4 linked regions of the Homo sapiens genome follow. The protein of the gene in region 2 purifies or fractionates together with the protein of the main gene of each other region. This does not show direct contact. Each region holds a gene or a part of one and is shown on either strand. Other genes may lie near its edges. The genes, in order: PCMT1, METTL2A, PHGDH and CPNE7.

Region 1 (4,840 bases), on a different chromosome or scaffold from region 2:
CGGGCAGAGACGCTCCTCACCTCCCAGACGGGGTCGCGGCCGGGCAGAGACGCTCCTCACCTCCCAGACGGGGTCGCGGCCGGGCAGAGGCGCTCCTCACATCCCAGACGGGGCGGCGGGGCAGAGGCGCTCCCCACATCTCAGACGATGGGCGGCTGAGCAGAGACGCTCCTCACTTCCTAGATGGGATGGTGGCCGGAAAGAGGCGCTCCTCACTTCCTAGATGGGATGGCGGCTGGGCAGAGACGCTCCTCATATCCCAGACGGGGTGGCGGCCGGGCAGAGGCTGCAATCTCGGCACTTTGGGAGGCCAAGGCAGGCGGCTGGGAGGTAGAGGTTGTAGCTAGCCGAGATCACGCCACTGCACTCCAGCCTGGGCACCATTGAGCACTGAGTGAGCGAGACTCTGTCTGCAATCCTGGCACCTCGGGAGGCCGAGGCTGGTGGATCACTCCGGTTAGGAGCTGGAGACCAGCCCGGCCAACACAGCGAAACCCCGTCTCCACCAAAAAAATACGAAAACCAGTCAGGTGTGGTGGCGCGCGCCTGCAATCGCAGGCACTCGGCAGGCTGAGGCAGGAGAATCAGGCAGGGAGATTGCAGTGAGTTGAGATGGCGGCAGTACAGTCCAGCTTCGGCTCGGCATCAGAGGGAGACCGTGGAAAGAGAGGGAGACCGTGGGTAGAGGGAGACCGTGGGGAGAGGGAGAGGGAGAGGGAGCGGGAGCGGGAGCTGGCTGTTTTCATTGATAAAATAGTTATAATTTTTTTTTTTTTTTGAGACGGAATCTCGCTCTGTCACCCAGGCTGGAGTGCAGTGGCGCCATCTTGGCTCACTGCAACATCCACCTCCCGGGTTCAAGCGATTCTCCTGCTTCAGCTTCCCAGTAGCTGGGATTACAGCCGCCACCACGCCCGGCTAATTTTTTGTATTTTTAGCAGAGACAGGGTTTCATCATGTTGGGCAGGCTGGTCTTGAACTCCTGACCTTAGGTCATCTGCCCGCCTCGGCCTCTCAAAGTGCTGGGATTACAGGTGTGAGCCACCATGCCCGGCCCAAATGTTTTTAAATCTTTGACATAATTTCTGACTTACAGAAATATTATGCAGATAGTACAGTTCCTGTGTACTTTTGTCCACACAGTCTTACCATTGGTAAAGCAAATCTCACCATTTGCTTTATCATTTATTCTCTCTCCCTTTATCCCCTCTCTCCTCTGTGTGTGTGTGTGTGTGTGTATGTGTGTGTATTATATTTCCGTTTTTCTGAGCTCTTTGAGGGTAAATTACAGGCATAATGCTCTTTACCTTTAACTTTTTTTGAGATGGAGTCTTGCTCTGTCGCCCAGGCTGGGGTGCAGTGGTGCAGTGGCACGTTCTCAGCTCACTGCAAGCTCCGCCTCTCGGGTTCACGCCATTGTCCTGCCTCAGCCTCCCAAGTAACTGGGACTACAGGCGCCCACCACCACGCCCAGCTAATTTTTTGTATTTTTAGTAGAGATGGGGTTTTACTGTGTTAGCCAGGATGGTCTCGATCTCCTGACCTCGTGATCCGCCTCGGCCTCCCAAAGTGCTGGGATTACAGGTGTGAGCCACTGTGCCCGGCCAATGCTCTTTACCTTTAAAAATAAGGACATTCTCTTACATACCCATAGTACAATTTTTGAAATCTGGAAGTCAGCATTGATATAACACTATTAGCCAATTTATAGACCTTATTCAGATTTCATCAATTATTCTGATAATATTCCTTATAGGAAAAGAAAATAGTAGATTGTGAGTTTTATTTGATTGTCATGTCTTTTTAGTTTCCTTTAAAGAATGACTGAGAAATGGTTCCTTATTCTTTTATGACCTTGAAAACCTTGAAAATTTTTACGAATATGGGCCATTTATTTTGTATAATGTCCCTCAATTTGGGTTTGTTTGATGTTTCCTCATAATTCAATATAGGTTATGCATTTTTGCCTGGCATATCCCAGAAATGAAGTATCTTAGCAGAGGCATTTGATGTCAGTGTGTCCCATAATTGTGGTGTTAACTTTGATCATCTGATTAAGGTAGTGTTGACCCAGTTTTTCCACTGGAGAACTTTTTTCTGAACTCCATTGTAAAATTACTATTTTTCCTTTTGTGATTAATAATTATCTGGGGCAAACCCTTTGAGATTATGTAAATATCCTGTTTATTTTTCAAATGTTAGTCCACTAGTTTTAGCTTCCATTTATGATTTTTACCTGAATCAATCAGTTATTATTGAGATGGCTGCCCAAAGGCTGATTTTCTTAATTTTTTCTATGTGCATTCATTATGTATCTATATATTTGTTGGGAACGGTTTTCCCTATTTTTCATTTATATATGTATAGAATGATGTATTAATTTATCACTATAGATTAATGGATGGGTATTTTTATCAACCAAGATCTGGTAGTAAATGTGTTTACTGCTATTGGATCTGATTTTTTTTTTTTTTTTTTTTTTTTTGAGATGGAGTCTCGCTCTGTTACAGCCCAGGCTGGAGTGCAGTGGCATGATCTCGGATCACTGCAATCTCCCCGTCCCGGGTTCAAGCAGTTCTCTGCCTCAGCCTCCCGAGTAGCTGGGATTACAGGTGGCTGCCACCATGCCCAGCTAATTTTCTTGTATTTTTAGTAGAGATGGAGTTTCACCATCTTAGCCAGACTGGTCTTGAACTCCTGACCTCGTGATCTACCTGCCTCAGCCTCCCAAAGTGCTGGAATGTCAGGCCTGAGCCACCACGCCCAGCCTGATCTGATTATTTTTAATAATGAGAATACTGGCTGGGTGTGGTGGCTTATGTATGTCATCCCAGCACTTTGGGAGGCCGAGGTGGGCGGATCACCTGAGGTCGAGAGTTCGAGACCAGCCTGACCAACATGGAGAAACCTCATCTCTATTAAAAATACAAAATTAGCCTTTGTATTTTTGTATTTGCTTATATATGCAAAGAATCTATTCCTTCCTTTTTGGAAGGAGTCACAAGAAACTAGTAATATTGGTTACCTTTACAGAGTGAAACCTGGATGGTTGGAAATGGGAGTAGGGTGGAGACTTTTCACTTATAAATCTTTTAATTTTTTTACTGAATTAATTAAAAGTTAAAAATTCACACACTGGAGGTCTAAAATTACTGAAACACATGATCTGAATGTAAGAATTCTAATCAAACAGTTTACTTAAGTAATACCTGGGCAGATAGCCAAGATAACTTGGTTATCTTGGTAGATGACAATAGTAGAAAAATTGGTAGAAAGTTGGCAACTTTATTTATATACCATGATGTGTGTACTTTAGTCTTAATGAATATTTTGTTTTCTTTTGGCAGCATGCATATGCGCTAGAACTTCTATTTGATCAGTTGCATGAAGGAGCTAAAGCTCTTGATGTAGGATCTGGAAGTGGAATCCTTACTGCATGTTTTGCACGTATGGTAAGAGTTTTATTTCTCACTCTGGCCCCAACAGAAGAATATTATATGATTTGGCTGTATGTTTTTTTAACTAGTGGTTTTCATGTTTATTTGTTTGTTAATTCTATTAGGATAGCAGTTGGAATGAGCATCACTTAGGATTTTGTTGTTGTTGCAAGTGACAGAACATGCAACCCAAACTGGCAGAGCTAAAAGGGAGTTTATTTAGTTCATATAACAGAAAAGTCTAGGGGTGTATACGGTCTGTTGTGTGGCTGGATTTAGAAGAGCAGATGTTGTTATTGACGATAGGGTTCTCTCTGTTTCTTGATTTGGCTTTACTTTCCTCCACATGTTGGTGTCATTATCCGGTAAGCTCTACCCTTGTAATCACAAGATGGTGGCCAGTAGCTCCCAAACTACCTTCTTCCAAGTTCTGATTTGGCAGAAAAGAATAGAATAAGCCTGGTTTTCTTTTCTTTTTTTTTTTTTTTTCTTCTTAAAAACAGAGGTTTTATTGCATTTGGTCCACAGTTGGTATTTCACCTTATCTCATGGTGCAGGGACCCTGGGTAGGGGACTCTCTACAGTACTTGGTGGGGCATGTGGCTGGGGGAGACAGAGCAGTATAGCTGGTCAGGCCCAGAAGGGGAGAAGGAAGGCTGGAGGCTCCTTAAAACCTACTGAGGGACCAGACGCGGTGGCTCACACCTATAATCCCAGCACTTTGGGAGGCTTAGGCAGGCAGATCACATGAGGCCAGGAGTTCGAGACCAGCCTGGCCAACGTGGTGAAACCCCATCTCTACTAAAAATAGAAAAATTAGCCAGGCATGGTGGAGCACCTGCAGTCCCAGCTATTCAGGAGGCTGAGGCAGGAAAATCCCTTGAGCCCAGGAGGTGGAGGTGCAGTAAGCCTTGATTGCACCACTGCACTCCAGCCTGGGCAACAACAACAACAACAAAAACCTACTGAGGCACAGTGTGGGGGGTGGGCTTAGCATGGAGAGGGGGTCAGGCTTAGCCCCGACAACTCAGAATTCTACTTCCTTGTACAGGCCTCAGTTTCCCCACCGGGCCCTGGGACATGTCTGAGGGTCCCAGGGAAATCCAGTCACTCAGGAGCCTGAGATATTTAGCATCGTAGCTGGGCCCCGTCTCCCAGGGGACTCATTTCCCAGCACCCTCTCCACTGTCCCTGCCCAGAATGAGCCTGGTTTCTAAACATTCCTGCAGATTTACCAGGATGAAGGTAAAACTTCTGCATTAGAAAAAGTGCTCTTAGAAAAATAATGCCTTGTTATACTTCTGCCTTTTCTCATCAGAGTCTTATCTGGTCAATGGCTATCCAGAGTATTAACTGGGGACCCACTAATATATGTTGGAGTAAAGGTTGATCATTGCTTAGAT
Region 2 (4,840 bases):
TAATTATACTTTAAGTTCTGGGGTACATGTGCAGAACGTGCAGGTTTATTACATATGTATACATGTGCCATGGAGGTTTGCTGCACCCATCAACCCGTCATCTACATTAGGTATTTCTGCTAATGCTATCCCTCTCCCAGCCCCCTCACCCCCAGACAGACCCCAGTGTGTGATGCCCCCCGCCCCGTGTCCATGTGTTCTCATTGTTCAACTCCCACTTATGAGTGAGAAAAAGTGGTGTTTGGTTTTCTGTTCTTGTGTTAGTTTGCTGAGAATGATGATTTCCAGCTTCATCCATGTCCCTGCAAAGGACATGATCTCTAGTGGTTAGGATTCAGCACTTTCAAAATACCTTTTTTAAACCGAAGCTGAGCCATGTCATAGCGGCCGTAATCTCGCAGAAGCATCATCCCGCCAGGTTTCAGAAGCCTGCTCAGCCTGTTGATAGCCTTCTGCATCCTGTGGAGCAGCAGGGAATGACGGTCAATCAGGTCTCCTTAAAGACGGGGTTCTCTTTCCCTGTAGCATATCCCAAAAAGCCAGTGGACTTCCTCAACTGACACACCAAGTCTGAGATCTAAGCTCCTCTACTCTTGCTTCAGTTAGAACTGAAGGACATTAGCTGCCTGCTCACAGCTGTGGCCTCGATCCACTGCCTTCAGCCTGAAGGGGCCCGAGGACAGCCCGCTTCTGCCGTAAGAAAGTTCCCTGCTCCTGGCCGGGTGCGGTGGCTCATGCTTGTAATACCAGCACTTTGGGAGGCTGAGGCAGGTGGATCACATGAGGTCAGGAGTTTGAGACCAGCCTGGCCAAAATGGTTAAACCCCATCTCTACTAAAAATACAAAAAGTAGCCAGGTGTGGTGGCGTGTGCCTGTAATCCCAGACACTCAGGAGGCTGAGGCAGGAGAATTTCTGGAACCTGGGAGGTGGAGGTTGCAGTGAGCCAAGATTGCACCACTGCCCTCCGGCCTGGGCCGCAGAGTAACTGAGACTTTGTCTCCAAAAAACAAACAAACAAACAAAAGTTCTCTGCTCTCTATCTGGCTCACTTCCCCACTGTCCTAGATAGCCATCTTTGCCCTGTGCGCCTGTGGCTGAGCTGAATCCTGAGCATCCAGTGGGTTCTGCTAGGTGACTTATCTGCCTGCATCATTAGACCTGAGCTCTTTCAATGTAGGGGCTGTATCTTTCTGTTTGTTAAATGAAGACTTGTCCTCAAGAACTTACAATACAATCAGTATGCAAATGAGTATAACAGACAGAGGGTTTTACACTTAGGTCTGTGTTTTCCATATGCAGTGTTCTTCAAAAGTCTTGGTGCAGGTTGAAGCTTTCATAACTTCAGAAGTCTAAATGCTACAAACTTCACCAAAAAAATTTCAAAGTCTATTTAAATTTTGCATAATGAATGTTTCCCTCTTAAAAAAAACCAAAAAACAAAAAAACGGCCAAGGCAGGCAGATCACCTGAGGTCAGGAGTTCGAGACCAGCCTGGCCAACATGGTGAAACCCTGTCTCTACTAAAAATACAAAAAAATTAGCCAGGGATGGTGGCAGGCACCTGTAATCCTAGCTACTTGGGAGGCTGAGGCAGGAGAATCGCTTGAACCTGGGAGGCGGAGATTGCAGTGAGCCAAGACCATAGCACTGCACTCCAGCCTGGGCAACAAGAGTGAAACTCCATCTCAGAAAACAAACAAACAAACAAAAAACAGCTGGGGTCCTGCTATGCTATGTTGCCTCGGCTGGACTCTTGGGCTCAAGTGATCCTCCTGCCTCAGTCTCTAGGTAGCTGGGACTAAAAGTGTGTGCCACTGTGTCTGGCTTGAATTTTAAATTTTAATAATTTGTTTTAGTCCATGTCAATTTTTAAAAAGTTTGTAGCATTGAAACTTCTAAGGTCATAGGTTTTTTTTGAGACAGGGTCTCACTCTGTCACCCAGGCTGCAGTGCAGTGGTGTGATCGTAGCTCACTTCACTGCAGCCTCAAACTCCTGGGCTTAAGCCATACTCCTGCCTCAGCCTTCTGAGTAGCTGGGACTACAGATATGCACCTGGCTAAATTTTTTTATTTTTATTTTTAGTAGAGATAACGGTCCTGCTTTGTTGCCCAAGCTGGTCTTGAGCTCCTGGCTTCAAGCACTCCTCCCACCTCAGCCTCCCAAAGTGGTGGGATTATAGGCGTGAGCCACTGTGCCTGGTCAACCTCTGCAATTATTAAAGTTTAAAACCATGGTAGGCCTTTTGGGTTATCCTGCATATGCCTTTATTTCACACTCATCCTCTCAGGTTGGATGACTTCAGTACCCTTCTAGAGGAAGTGTGGCCTTCTAGAGGAAGGTCAATCACCCAAAGCTCCTATCCTGTGCAGCCAGTGAGGGGTCCTTGGACTCTGGGAGATAAACCAGGATCTCAATCACTGGTCCCTGCAGTCTCTAGTCATGTAATCTGGCTTCCTAACACCAGCTTACCTTGACCTTTAACACTAACTTACTTAATCATCCTTTGCAGGACTCTGATGACACAGAATGAGGAGATGTTTGAAGTCTCTAATCTCATGATTTCATGGGTATAGTTTACCCTAACATGTGCCAACCCCCAGCCTGTCCAGACTCACTGCACTCTGGCAGTGCCAAGGGCTTCCATGGAATTAGTCAATGGTATCTGAATCTCTGAGCCACCATCTGACTCTGCTTCCTTGAGAAGGTAGTTTTGGTCAGGTTGCAGTGGCTCATGCCTGTAATCCCAGCACTTTGGGATGCCGAGGTGGGTGGATAACTTGAGGTAAGGAGTTCAAGACCAGCCTGGCCAACATAGTGAAACCCCGTCTCTACTAAAAATACAAAAAATATTAGCCAGGTGTGGTGGTGCTTGTCTGTAATCCCAGCTGCTCGGGAGGCTGAGGCAGGAGAATCGCTTTAACCTTGGAGGCAGAGGTTGCAGTGAACTGAAATCTCACCACTGCACTCCAGCCTGGGCAACAGAGTGAGACTCCATCTCAGAAAAAAAAAAGAGAAGGTAGTGTCACAGGACCACTGGTTACCTATGCATATGAAGTTTTAATGGTGTATTTTAGGATATAGCATTTGACTTTCCTTTAATCTGAATCTGATTTTATAGAATTCTGTATCACACTTTCCTAAAACACTGTAAGCATCAGAGAACACCTTAGTTAAGGTTCAATGTAAATTTCATGTTGCTAATAAGGTTGTTTTATTTAAAGCATTTAAAAGGCCAATAGGCTGGGCGTGGTGGCTCACGCCTGTAATTCCAGCACTTTGGGAGGCCGTGGCGGGCGGATCATGAGGTCATGAGGTCAGGAGTTTGAGACCAGCCTGGCCAACATGGTGAAACACCATCTCTACTAAAAAAAAAAAATACAAAAATTAGCCAGGCATGGTGGCGTACACCTGTAATCCCAGCTGCTTGGGAGGCTGAGGCAGGAGAATTGGTTGAACCCGGGAGGTGGAGGTTGCAGTGAGCCAAGATCTCATCACTGCACCCCAGCCGGGGCAACAGAGCAAGACTCCGTCTTCAAAAAAAAAAAAAAGGCCAGCATAGTGGCTCATGCCTGTAATCCCAGCATTTTGCAAGGTTGAGGCAAGCAGATTACAAGGTCAGGAGTTTAAGACCAGCCTGGCCAACATGGTGAAACCCCGCATCTACTAAAAATACAAAAATTAGCTGGGCATGGTAGCAGGTGCCTGTAATCCCAGCTACTCGGGAGGTTGAGGCAGGAGAATTGTGTGAACCGGGGAGGTGGAGGTTGCAATGAGCCTAGATCACGCCATTGCATTCCAGCCCAGGCGACAGGGCAAGACTCCATCTCAAAAAAATAAAATAAAATAAAATAAAAATCCAATAATGAGACATTACCTAAGAGCTGTGACACCCACAGTTCACAGTTCTAAAACGGCATGTGATGAGACTATCAATAGGAATTTCCCCACATACTCATTAGAGACTGATTTCCCATTCTTTCCCAATGTTGAGCCACAACAAGGAAATGAAGAACCAACTACTGCAGAAGTTTCGAGGCCAGAACAGAAGTTGGACATCAAGACAAATTTAGGAAAATGGCTGAGATGCTCACATCACTACAAATGGTGTGGCTTCTTTGTGTCTATCAGAACATAAACAAAACTCTTTTTACTTTGAGCCCAACTCTAATATCAAGGTCCCTCGCCAGGCTGGGCATGGTGGCTCACACCTATAATCCCAGCACTTTGGGAGGCCAAGGTGGGAGGATCGCTTGAGCCCAGGAATTCAAGACCAGTCTGGGCAACATGGCAAAACCCCATCTCTGCTAAAAACACAAAAATTGGCCAGGACTGGTGGCACGTGCCTGTGGTCCCACCTACTTGGGAAGCTGAGGAGGGAGGATCATTTAAGCCCAAGAGGTTAAGGCTGCAGTGAGCCATGATCGTGCCACTGCACTCCAGCCTGGGCTGACAGAGCAAGAACCTATTTTAAAAAAAAAGGTCCCTCACCAAAGCTTCCTTTTTGTGACACTACCAGCCAAGGGACCCAAACTTACTTGTCTGGAACAATTGCTGAAAGAACAAATATGAGAATGATAATATCAAGACTGCCCTTGGGCACTGGGTAACTCTTCTCTTCATCACACAGGTCGTGAACAAAGGCAAAACACCGAGAAGGATCATATTCTGAATTTGTCTGCAGACAGATGGAAGACACAGGTAAGTTAGAAAATATTAACATAGCCTAAAGAAAAGATTATCTTGTTTTAAATTTTAAATGTAACTGTTGCTACTTCACAAAGAGGGATATATTTCTTTTTTCTTTTTTTTCTTGAGGCAAAATCTCCCCATGTTGCC
Region 3 (4,840 bases), on a different chromosome or scaffold from region 2:
TTATTTTAGACATCCTAAAAGAAATGTTTAGACACACATTAACTCCTCTAACATTCACAGCTGCACGGAGGGAGGCACTGGAGGTTAAACAGTTCTCCCCAGATCACCCAACTGGAGGCACTTGAACAGATTCAAAGCCAGCAAAGTCAACCCCAGCACGGCCAGCCTCCTGAGTACTTAAATGTAGGCCTTTAACCTGATGCCAAAAACCTCAGAGTGAGCGAGCGTGCAAAAAGAGAAATCTCAAGCTGCTACTTCCGTGCTTTCACTTCACTAACTTCTAACACAAAAACATTCTCTCATCTCTACACATCACTAGGACATTGATCTCCATCTGAGGGTAAGGCTGAAGGTGGAATCTGTCCTCCATCACAGAGGCGCACGATCTTATGGGTAAACTCAGAAGAACTTCAGTACCAAGCCACATGGGGGACAAGCTGCATTCACCTCACTGCTCTGACCCATCAGGCAGGTAATAAGGACAGGGACTTGCCTTGAGGAACTGTTCACTTCTTGGGAAAGCTTGCCTGATAAAATGCCTTTGACCTAGTGAGACAGAGCCCCACCTGGCCCCTCTCTCCTCTCCCTCACATCCTATTTTCTTCCCACCAGACTCCACAGTGCTATCTAAGATGTATGCGTGCGGCACCACAGAACACAAGAAATCCCTAACCCTTTTCTCTGGCTGCTGCTCCCAGCTGATCATGGAGCCTCTCCAGGTTTCAATGCTTTGGAATCCTCATCAGGCCAGACTGGAGAGGACTCTAATGTGGGCGAGGGTCCTCACAATAATTAAATGGTTGCTGGCCTGACTTACTAGAGGAGGAGATGGTAAAGCAGGCAAAAATGGTGAAACCTACATTTGTTGATTCTCTCCTTCCTTCCTTTCTGTGTGCTGTTCTTCTGCACCTCAGGAGCCCCCGCCATCTGCTCAAAGTCCCTACTGTGAGGCCCAGCCACGCCTGCTCTCCACCCACATTGCCCAATCCTGTAGAGTCTACATATAGGCACCCACACTCTCCTACCGTCCTCCCTGCTAGGAACAGTCTGATGAAACGAACGCATTCCTTCCCAATAGGGTGTGCGTGTTTCCTAGTTTTGATGCACCTTTGATGAGTGAGGTCATGGTGAGCAGTTGACAATGGGGAGCTTCTTTTAAACCACAGCATTTCACCGATTCCTTTAAACAAAGCTGGTCCTGGAAAAGGAGGGAAAGTATTGCTGGCTCCCAATCCTTTCCTTCCACCTCCAGAAAAAAAGTGAGGTAATTAATCAGAAAGCCACATTGAGATCTTTTCCCTTACTCAAAAAAAAAAAAAAAAATCCCTGAAGGTAATAGCTGAAGTGAAACCAGGGTGCCAGGCTTCTGTACTTCTCCAGGGGGAGAGACACTCAGCCTAGATGTTCTGGGAGAACCCGGCTGCCAGCCTGGGGGCCCCTTCTAGGCTGAGACCCTACTGCTGTGTAAGCTATCCCTGTTTCTCCTTTCCCCCCACTGCCTCCTTTCACCTACCAGTGAATATCAGTGAATACCAGAGAGCTCAGATGGAAACTGCAGGGAGGAGTTAGAGCAGAGGTAAATTCCCCCAGATCCTCCTCCAGCAGGAGGGAAAGCAGGTCTCGCCATGGGAAAAGTAATTTCTTGGTCCCGGAAGGTTTCAGGCCTGAGTAGAGAAACAAGGAGTCCTTGATGCCTAGGTCCGCTGGTTTAGGGAATCCATGGAGCTTCAAAGGGACCTAGAACAACTTCCTACCCTGTTTATTGGGAGCCTTGTTCTTCCCCTTGACCACATAAATGCTTGAATTGCCTGTTCAACAGAAGTGCTCCATGCAATCAGTTTTGCCAAATTACTAACCAACACACTGAGACTCAAGCACATTCTGTGCCACAACCATTTGATTTCTAGGCTGCCCCATCCACTCAAGAGGCCTGGAACTCCTGCTAGAAGAGCAAGAGTCTTGCCCATTTGAGTTCCATTGTGTTATGAACCCACAGAACACACAAGGACCCTGAAGCAGGTTCTTACTCCATTCTATTACAATACAGATTTGTAAGGGCAGTGACAGAGATAAGCCCTGAGGGCCAGGGGAATCAGTGAGGGACATAGCCTAGCTGGAAAAGCCAGAGAGCTTCTTGGATAAATTAATACTGAAGCTTAATCTTGAAAAGTAAGCAGAGGGTACCTAGACACTGTCCATACCCTGCTGCCTGGAACATCCTTCCTTGTTATCTCCAGGCAGCAGGGTATGGAGAACATTTGCAAGAGTTGGAGGCTAGAGAAGGCAGATTGTCTGCAGCATGGAGAATAGAACATGAGTAAAGAGAAGTGCACCTTTGTGCACTAGGGAACCTGTGTAATGAATGTTGAATAGAGGACCTGATGGCCTTAAAGGTTCTTTGCAGTCTGCATGTCGCCTTCTTAGCAGTCTGCAAGTCGCTGAGACGAAATGTTTCTAAGTTTTTCTGGGTCCATTTGCTTGGCAAGTGGTAATAATTGGCATATCGGAGAGACTAGCTTTGCTGAGAAGTCAGGGACTTACCTGGCCAGGCACATGATCATTCCACAAGTGAGTTCTGCGGCACTGAGGCTGTTCCCATTGGGGGTGCTAAAGATCAAAGAAAAGGGGGACATCAATGGGCACAGACCCAGTATTCCCACTCCTTCCCCAAGAGAAAGCCTTGAGTGCAGGCTGTGTTCTCTCACTCCTGCTCCATGAACTGACCACGCCACTGTCCAGAGTTCTCTGATGTACTCTCGCCCTAAGCCAAGGGCTGGAAAGAAACCCCCTTCCCCTGGCTTTATGTTTCCCTGCAGAGGGACCTCCATTAGAGAAACATATCTGGCTTCTCTCTATCCAAACACTCCTCCCAAGGCAGAGAAGTGTCTCACATGATCAGATTTGTGTGTGGTTCAGCCCTTTTCTTTCTCCTATTTCAGGATCTACCTGCCTCCAGAAAGCACAAATTCCCTGCTGCTCCTACCATTGATCTTACCAAGGTCAGAGTCTCTCGAATTCAGGGCTCAGTCCAATGCCTACATATCTTCATCAAGTTACCCAACCTGGCTTTTTTTTTTTTTTTTTGACAAGGCCTCGCTCTGTCACCCAGGCTGGAGTGTACTGGCATGATCACAGCTCACTGCAGCCTTGACTTCCCAGGGTTCAAGCAATCCTTCCAGCTCAACCTTCTCAGTAGCTGAGACTACAGGCTGGTGCCAACATACCTGGCTTTTCTTTCCTTCTTTTTTTTTTTTTGTATTTTTGTAGAGATGGGGGTCTCACTTTGTTGCCCAGGCTGGTCTCAAACTCCTGGGCCCAAGTGATCCTCCCACCTTGGCCTTCCAAAGTGCTGGGATTACAGGTGTGAGCCCCCACACGCAGCCCCAACCTAGCTTTTATTAGTAATCTCCACCTGTCTGACTACTCTTCCTATCTCTCAACAAGTTCTGAACTGAGAAAGCCTCCTCACACCCTAAGTCACAGGGCAATCCAGACCCTTCCCATTTTATAAACAAAAAAATAGAGGTGGCAACCCACAAAACTATTTTTCTTTTCTTAAATGCTTTTTAGGTTTTTGAAAGAATTTCATATACGTGTTCACCCTGATTATTCCCCTACTGGGTCTGTCTTTTTCATCTCTGGAATGAAGGTTAATAAGGTTACAAGAAGAAAAAGTCAAGAGATCCTGTATAAGATAAACGGACTCTCAGAGTCTGTCTGCCTGCAAAACCACCTGGCTTCTCATCCTCCCACAGCAAACAGGCTGTATGGGGGCGCAAGTAGAGGTGCAGAGATTGGGGCCTGGCTGCCTCTGGGTCCAAGGCAAGAATGTGGGATGGGTTATCGTTTAACATTTCTGCTGTTGAATATTGACTTCAGTCAGGTGACCAATTAACCTCTACCCTACAGGGGGAAGTGCAGTGCAGGGGAGGGGAAAGGTCTTAAGGACAATGAAGTCCCCAAGGGAAGAGAAAAGTCTTAAGAACAAAGAGGCCTGGGGATGGCCTTGCCATACCATCTAAGTGACAGAACGGGTACAGTACAGCACTGGCGTGCTGATGACCTCTGCCCCTGTGTTTCTGCAGAAACAGCTTTAAATGGGACCCTTCTCCTCTTGCCCTAGAGCACTGAAAGAGAAACTAGTGTCTTAGTTCCAGAAGGTGGCAGGGAAGTGGGGAGGGCAAGGATTCTAGTCATTAGTCTGCTAGCAAAGGTTGTGCCTCTGTACAAGCACAGTAAAGTAGAGCTGACAAAAACCTGCCACAAACAGCATTAATAGAGGCAGAGGGGGCTGGGTGGGAGCAGGAAATGCAGATGAACTCACTGACCTTCCGATTCCTGAACCAGGTCACAGAGGTGCAAGCAACTGCGCATGGGGTGGGCTCGTGAAACATTTTGAGATTATGCAGGGACTCTCAATTTCAAAAACTGTGTAACACCCTGATGGCATTGGTGATATAGTGGTGAGCATAGCTGCCTTCCAAAAACCTTGAAACCACTATGCTGTGTGTGTTGACCATGCAGGCCCTAGACCAGGCATCCTCCTGGAAGCCCTTCCAATGGACTCAGCTTTCTCTCAAGTGAGTTTTTTCTCCCTAGGTGTGGTCAGTCTCCGCACTCACCCCCCTACCCCCAAACCGCCCGCAGCCTCCATGACTTACTTCATAACCAAGATGCCCTTCCTTGTTGCGGCCTCCAGATCCACATTGTCCACACCTGTGCCAGCCCTGCCCACCACCTGGAGTTTCTCAGCTGCGTTGATGACATCAGCGGTCACCTTGGTGGCAGAGCGAACAATAAGGCCTTCACAGTCCTGAAGCAGAAAAAACATTTGGGTCCA
Region 4 (4,840 bases), on a different chromosome or scaffold from region 2:
TTATTAGACGCTGATACTGACATTTACAGATGAAACCGTCTGAGACCCGCTTCCCAGCCACACAGGAACATAACAGCTGAACGCAATCCTCGACTCCGGACTGGCTCCTGGGCCAGGAACAATACTGCTTTGAAAGTTATGATTGTGCCAATGAATGAAATTGGAATATAGTCTATGTATTAGATAAAAGGATTGTATCTAAATTCAATTTCCTGAAATCTGTATTTGTGCTATGGTTATACAAGAGAATATCTTTGATCTTAGGAAATATACACTGAAATAGTAAGAGGTAGGCCGGGCGCGGTGGCTCACGCCTGTAATCCCAGCACTTTGGGAGGCCGAGGTGGGCGGATCACGAGGTCAGGAGATCGAGACCATCCTGGCTAACACAGTGAAACCCCGTCTCTACTAAAAATACAAAAAATTAGCCGGGCGTGGTGGCGGGCGCCTGTAGTCCCAGCTATTTGGGAGGCTGAGGCAGGAGAATGGCGTGAACCCGGGAGGCGGAGCTTGCAGTGAACCAAGATCGCGCCACTGCACTCCAGCCTGGGTGAAGAGCGAGACTCCATCTCAAAAAAAAAAAAATATTAAGAGGTAAAACCGTGATGTTGCAACGTGCTCTCGGACGGTTCACAAATGTGTGTGTGCAGTGCCAAGTTTTTTAAAAAGCATCAAAGTCTTTATCACGATACTATCTGTATAAATTAAAAATAGATGCAAACAGATATAGGGTTCCCATTTGGCTTGAAGATGTAAGTAGACGGGTGATGTTTGATCATCATGAATGTACCTCGTGCCTCTGAACTGGATACAATAAAATGGTTACAGGCCAGGTGCGGCGGCTCACACCTGTAATCCCATCCCAGCACTTTGGGAGGCTGAGGCAGGCAGATCACTTGAGGTCAGGAGTTTGAGACCAGCCTGGCCAAGACAGTGAAACCCCATCTCTACAAAAATATAAAAATTAGCCGGGTATGGTGGCGGGCGCCTGTACTCCCAGCTACTCAGGAGGCTGAGTCAGGAGAATGGCGTGAACCCGGGAGGCGGAGCTTGCAGTGAGCCGAGATCACGTCACTGCACTCCAGCCTGGGTGACAAGAGTAAAACTCCATCTCAAAAAAAAAAAAAAAAAAAGAAAAGAAAAAAATGGTTACAATGGTAAATTTTAAACTGTGCATATTTTATCACAATAAAAAAAATTTGGGCTGGGCGCGGTGGCTCACTCCTGTAATCCCAGCACTTTGGGAGGCCGAGGCGGGTGGATCACAAGGTCAGGAGTTTAAGACCAGCCTGGCCAAGACTGTGAAACCCCGTCTCTACTAAAAATACAAAAAATTAGCCGGGCGTGGTGGCGGGAGCCTGTAATCCCAGCTACTCGGGAGGCTGAGGCAGGAGAATTGCTTGAACTCGGAGGGTGGAGCTTGCAGTGAGCCGAGATTGCACCACTACAGCTTGGGTGACAGAGCAGGACTCTATCTCAAAAAAAAAAAAAAAAATTGAAAAAGAAAACATACAAATACAACAACTACACAGACGTGAAGCAGGAGCGCAATGTGTGAGCAGCTGTTGGCCTCACGGGTTGCAGGACCTCAGAGCTCTTGTAACTTTTTGGTGAGTTTAAAATTATTTTGGGCCGGGCGCGGCGGCTCACACCTGTAATCCCAGCACTTTGGGAGGCCGAGGCGGGTGGATCACGAGGTCAGGAGATCGAGACCATCCTCGCTAACACGGTGAAACCCCGTCTCTACTAAAAATACAAAAAAAAAAAATTAGCCGGGCATGATGGTGGGCGCCTGTAGTCCCAGCTACTTAGGAGGCTGAGGCAGGAGAATGGCGCGAACCTGGGAGGGGGAGGTTGCAGTGAGCGGAGATTGCGCCACTACACTTCCAGCCTGGGTGACAGAGCGAGACTCCGTCTCAAAAAAAAAAAACAACAAAAAAAAGAATGCCGGGCACGGTGGCTCACGCCTGTAATCCCAGCACTTTGGGAGGCCGAGGCGGGTGGATCATGAGGTCAGGAGTTTGAGACCAGCTTGGCCAACAGGGTGAAACCCCGTCTCTACTAAAAATACAAAAATTAGCCAGAAGTGGTGGCGGGCGCCTGTAGTCCCAGCTCCTTGGGAGGCTGAGGCAGGAGAATGGCGTGAACCCCGGGAAGCAGAGGTTGCAGTGAGCTGGGATCACATCACTGCACTCCAGCCTGGGTGACAGAGTGAGACTCTGTCTCACAAAAAACAAAAGAAAAGAAAAGAAAGCAGCAGGCTGGCTGTGGCCCCAGAGACACATACAGGGCCACACGGTGGCAGAGTAGAATCCAGTGCAGTTCTCGGCACCGTATCATTTGTGCAAAGGAAAGACACATGTAAACAAAATGACGATACACACACAGCCAAACAGTAGACATGTGCGCGGCCTTGTGGTGCCCAGAGGAAGAGGAGAGGGGCAGCCTCGCTGCAGCCATGGCCGTGACCGTGTGAGGCGATGGACAGCCCTGTGCCCGAGACACCTGCACCTTTGAGGGAGACGTAGTCAACCAGCTGGGCCCCCGCCCTCCTGAGCTCTGTCCTGCCTGGGGGCCTCTGCGCTGGCTGTTCCCTCTGCCAGGTGCCTCCCTGACGTCCACGCGCTGGTGCACACACAGCCGACCCCACACCAAGCATGCACCACACCCCCCGGGCACCTACAGAGGCTTTCCCGGTGCTCTCCTCGGCCGCCGCCACGCGTGCCACCTTGGAGATGATGGGCGCCACGTTGGTGGGGCCGTAGAGCTGGACCCTGGGCAGGCAGTTCTGGTAGGCCTCCACCACGCCCTGGATGCCTGTGGGGGGCAGGGGGTGAGCCCGGCCCCCCTGCACTCCCCTCCCCAGGCCTGCCTCGAGCTCCTACCTTCACACTCATCGTCCTCAGGGTTGAAATTGATGGCAAAGTCATGGGACACCTGGGTGGGAACAAGAGGGCTCAGTCAGCTGCTCGTTGCAACACACCCCACTGGCCCCATGTCCCTCGGTCAGCTGCTCCCCCCGTCCCCAGCCCCCATGTCCCCCAGTCAGCTGCTCCCCCCGTCCCCGCCCTCATGTCCCCCGCCTACTAAAGAGGGCTCGGTCAGCTGCTCCCCCCGTCCCCGGCCCCCATGTCCCCCAGTCAGCTGCTCCCCCCGTCCCCGGCCCCCATGTCCCCCAGTCAGCTGCTCCCCCGACCTGGCCCCCATGTCCCCCACCTACTGAGAGAGGTAGGCTTGGAGTTTCTAGGGGAAGCCAAACCCATGGGTGACCATGTTCTGCAGAGTCATGAAACAGAGAGGGAGGCAGACCTCCCTGGATCCAGCAGTGCCTGAGGCTTACATTAGCCAATAAATCCCCACACACCATTTTTTCTGCTGAAGCCAGTTGAAGTTTTTTGTTGTTTTCTTTTTTCTTTTTTAAAACAGAGTCTTGCTCTACAGGCCAGGCTGGACTGCAGTGGTGCGATCTCAGCTCAGTGCAACCTCTGCCTCCCGGGTTCAAGCAATTCTCTTGCTTCAGCCTCCCGAGTAGCTGGGATTACAAGCATGTGCCACCACGCCCAGCTAATTTTTGTATTTTTGGTAGAGATGGGGTTTCACCATGATGGCCAGGCTGGTCTGGAACTCCTGACCTCAGGTAATCGGCCCGCCTCGGCCTCCCAAAGTGCTGGGATTACAGGCGTGAGCCACCACGCCTGGCCGAAGCTAGCTGAATTGTTATGTGCAATAGAGGATTCCACACTAACGTCCTTCCCTATCTCCTGAAGGAACACGGAGTTGGCCTCCAGACACCCCTCAAGCTAACAAGTCCTAGGAGGCCAAAGGCCAGCCTCTCTGGCTAGAAGGCTGGGGTTCCCGCTTTGCACCCCAATCCCATCCTACAGTCTCCGGTTCCCAGCAGGCAGCCAGGGCTCCCTGGGCCAGGCCGTCCTCTGCCTGGGAGGGCACGAGAAGGGCACAGCTCTGAGGTCTCAGGTTCTGGGCTCTCCTACCTCATACTTGGGAGGGATCCGGGCTCCAAACCCCAAAGCGGAAAACCTCTTGTCACTGGAAGAGAGGCAGGAGGTCACCAGGAGGCCCTGACCTCTTGTGGCTGCAACAGGGGCCACTTCTAGGGAGACATGACTGGCGCCCAAAAGACTGGGGGTGCCCAGGCCTGGTACCACGGCAGTAAGCACCTGCCAGAGGTGGGGAACCGAGGCTCAGGGCAGCAGAGGCACAGGCCTGTGTGCAAGGGGACACGGTCCTGCCGCCCGCGAGCCTGCCTCCCAACTCCACGTTTGTGTACATGCTGTCCCCCTGCAGACGCCTCCCCGGGGGCTCTCAGACCACGGGAGGGGTCCTGTGGGGCCAAGGAACCCACTGTGGCCCTCACCAACCCAGAAAGAGAGGTCTGTAGGGTAGGGAGCTCAGGGCATCCTCTCCCAAGCCCCAGGCCAGGGGTCTGTGTTGTGGTAAGAAGCTCAGAGCACAGGGTTTTGTGCCGGGCCCTCCCTGGTAAAGCATACGCGGGTGAGCCCCAAGCCTCTGTGACTTCGGTTTGCTATTCTGGCAAAGCGGGACACAGACGTCCCCCCAGGACCATGTGCAGAGTCTATGCGGCAGCCTCCAGTAGGGCTACCCAGCCCTTCCTCGCAGAGTCTCTTTTTTTTGAGACGGAGTCTTGCTCTGTCACCCAGGCTTGAGTACAAAGGTGTGATCTTGACTCACTGTAACCTCCGCCTCCCGGGTTCCAGTGATTCTCCTGCCTCAGCCTCCTGAGTAGCTGGGATTACAGGCATCTGCCACCACGCCCAGCTAATTTTTGTATTTTCAGTAGAGATGGGGTTTCACCATGTTG

The links.
Region 1: the proteins of METTL2A (region 2) and PCMT1 purify together in Homo sapiens (pull-down; one large-scale study listed by IntAct). This does not show direct contact.
Region 3: the proteins of METTL2A (region 2) and PHGDH purify together in Homo sapiens (pull-down; one large-scale study listed by IntAct). This does not show direct contact.
Region 4: the proteins of METTL2A (region 2) and CPNE7 purify together in Homo sapiens (affinity purification with mass spectrometry; 2 studies listed by BioGRID and IntAct, with this or other methods). This does not show direct contact.

The regions. Positions count from the first base shown.
Region 1 is NC_000006.12:149,786,607-149,791,446, forward strand, and holds part of PCMT1 (protein-L-isoaspartate(D-aspartate) O-methyltransferase), read left to right. Parts: intron 1-3,347; coding exon 3,348-3,452; intron 3,453-4,840. UniProt on the Homo sapiens protein: Initiates the repair of damaged proteins by catalyzing methyl esterification of L-isoaspartyl and D-aspartyl residues produced by spontaneous isomerization and racemization of L-aspartyl and L-asparaginyl residues in aging peptides and proteins.
Region 2 is NC_000017.11:62,440,456-62,445,295, reverse strand, and holds part of METTL2A (tRNA N(3)-cytidine methyltransferase METTL2A), read right to left. Parts: intron 4,680-4,840; coding exon 4,540-4,679; intron 460-4,539; coding exon 353-459; intron 1-352.
Region 3 is NC_000001.11:119,721,143-119,725,982, reverse strand, and holds part of PHGDH (D-3-phosphoglycerate dehydrogenase), read right to left. Parts: intron 4,814-4,840; coding exon 4,662-4,813; intron 2,608-4,661; coding exon 2,542-2,607; intron 1,665-2,541; coding exon of another isoform or gene 1,534-1,664; exon of another isoform or gene 1,514-1,533; intron 1,199-1,513; coding exon of another isoform or gene 1,108-1,198; intron 1-1,107. UniProt on the Homo sapiens protein: Catalyzes the reversible oxidation of 3-phospho-D-glycerate to 3-phosphonooxypyruvate, the first step of the phosphorylated L-serine biosynthesis pathway.
Region 4 is NC_000016.10:89,589,104-89,593,943, reverse strand, and holds part of CPNE7 (copine-7), read right to left. Parts: intron 4,048-4,840; coding exon 3,993-4,047; intron 2,938-3,992; coding exon 2,886-2,937; intron 2,818-2,885; coding exon 2,684-2,817; intron 1,747-2,683; coding exon of another isoform or gene 1,744-1,746; exon of another isoform or gene 1-1,743. UniProt on the Homo sapiens protein: Calcium-dependent phospholipid-binding protein that may play a role in calcium-mediated intracellular processes.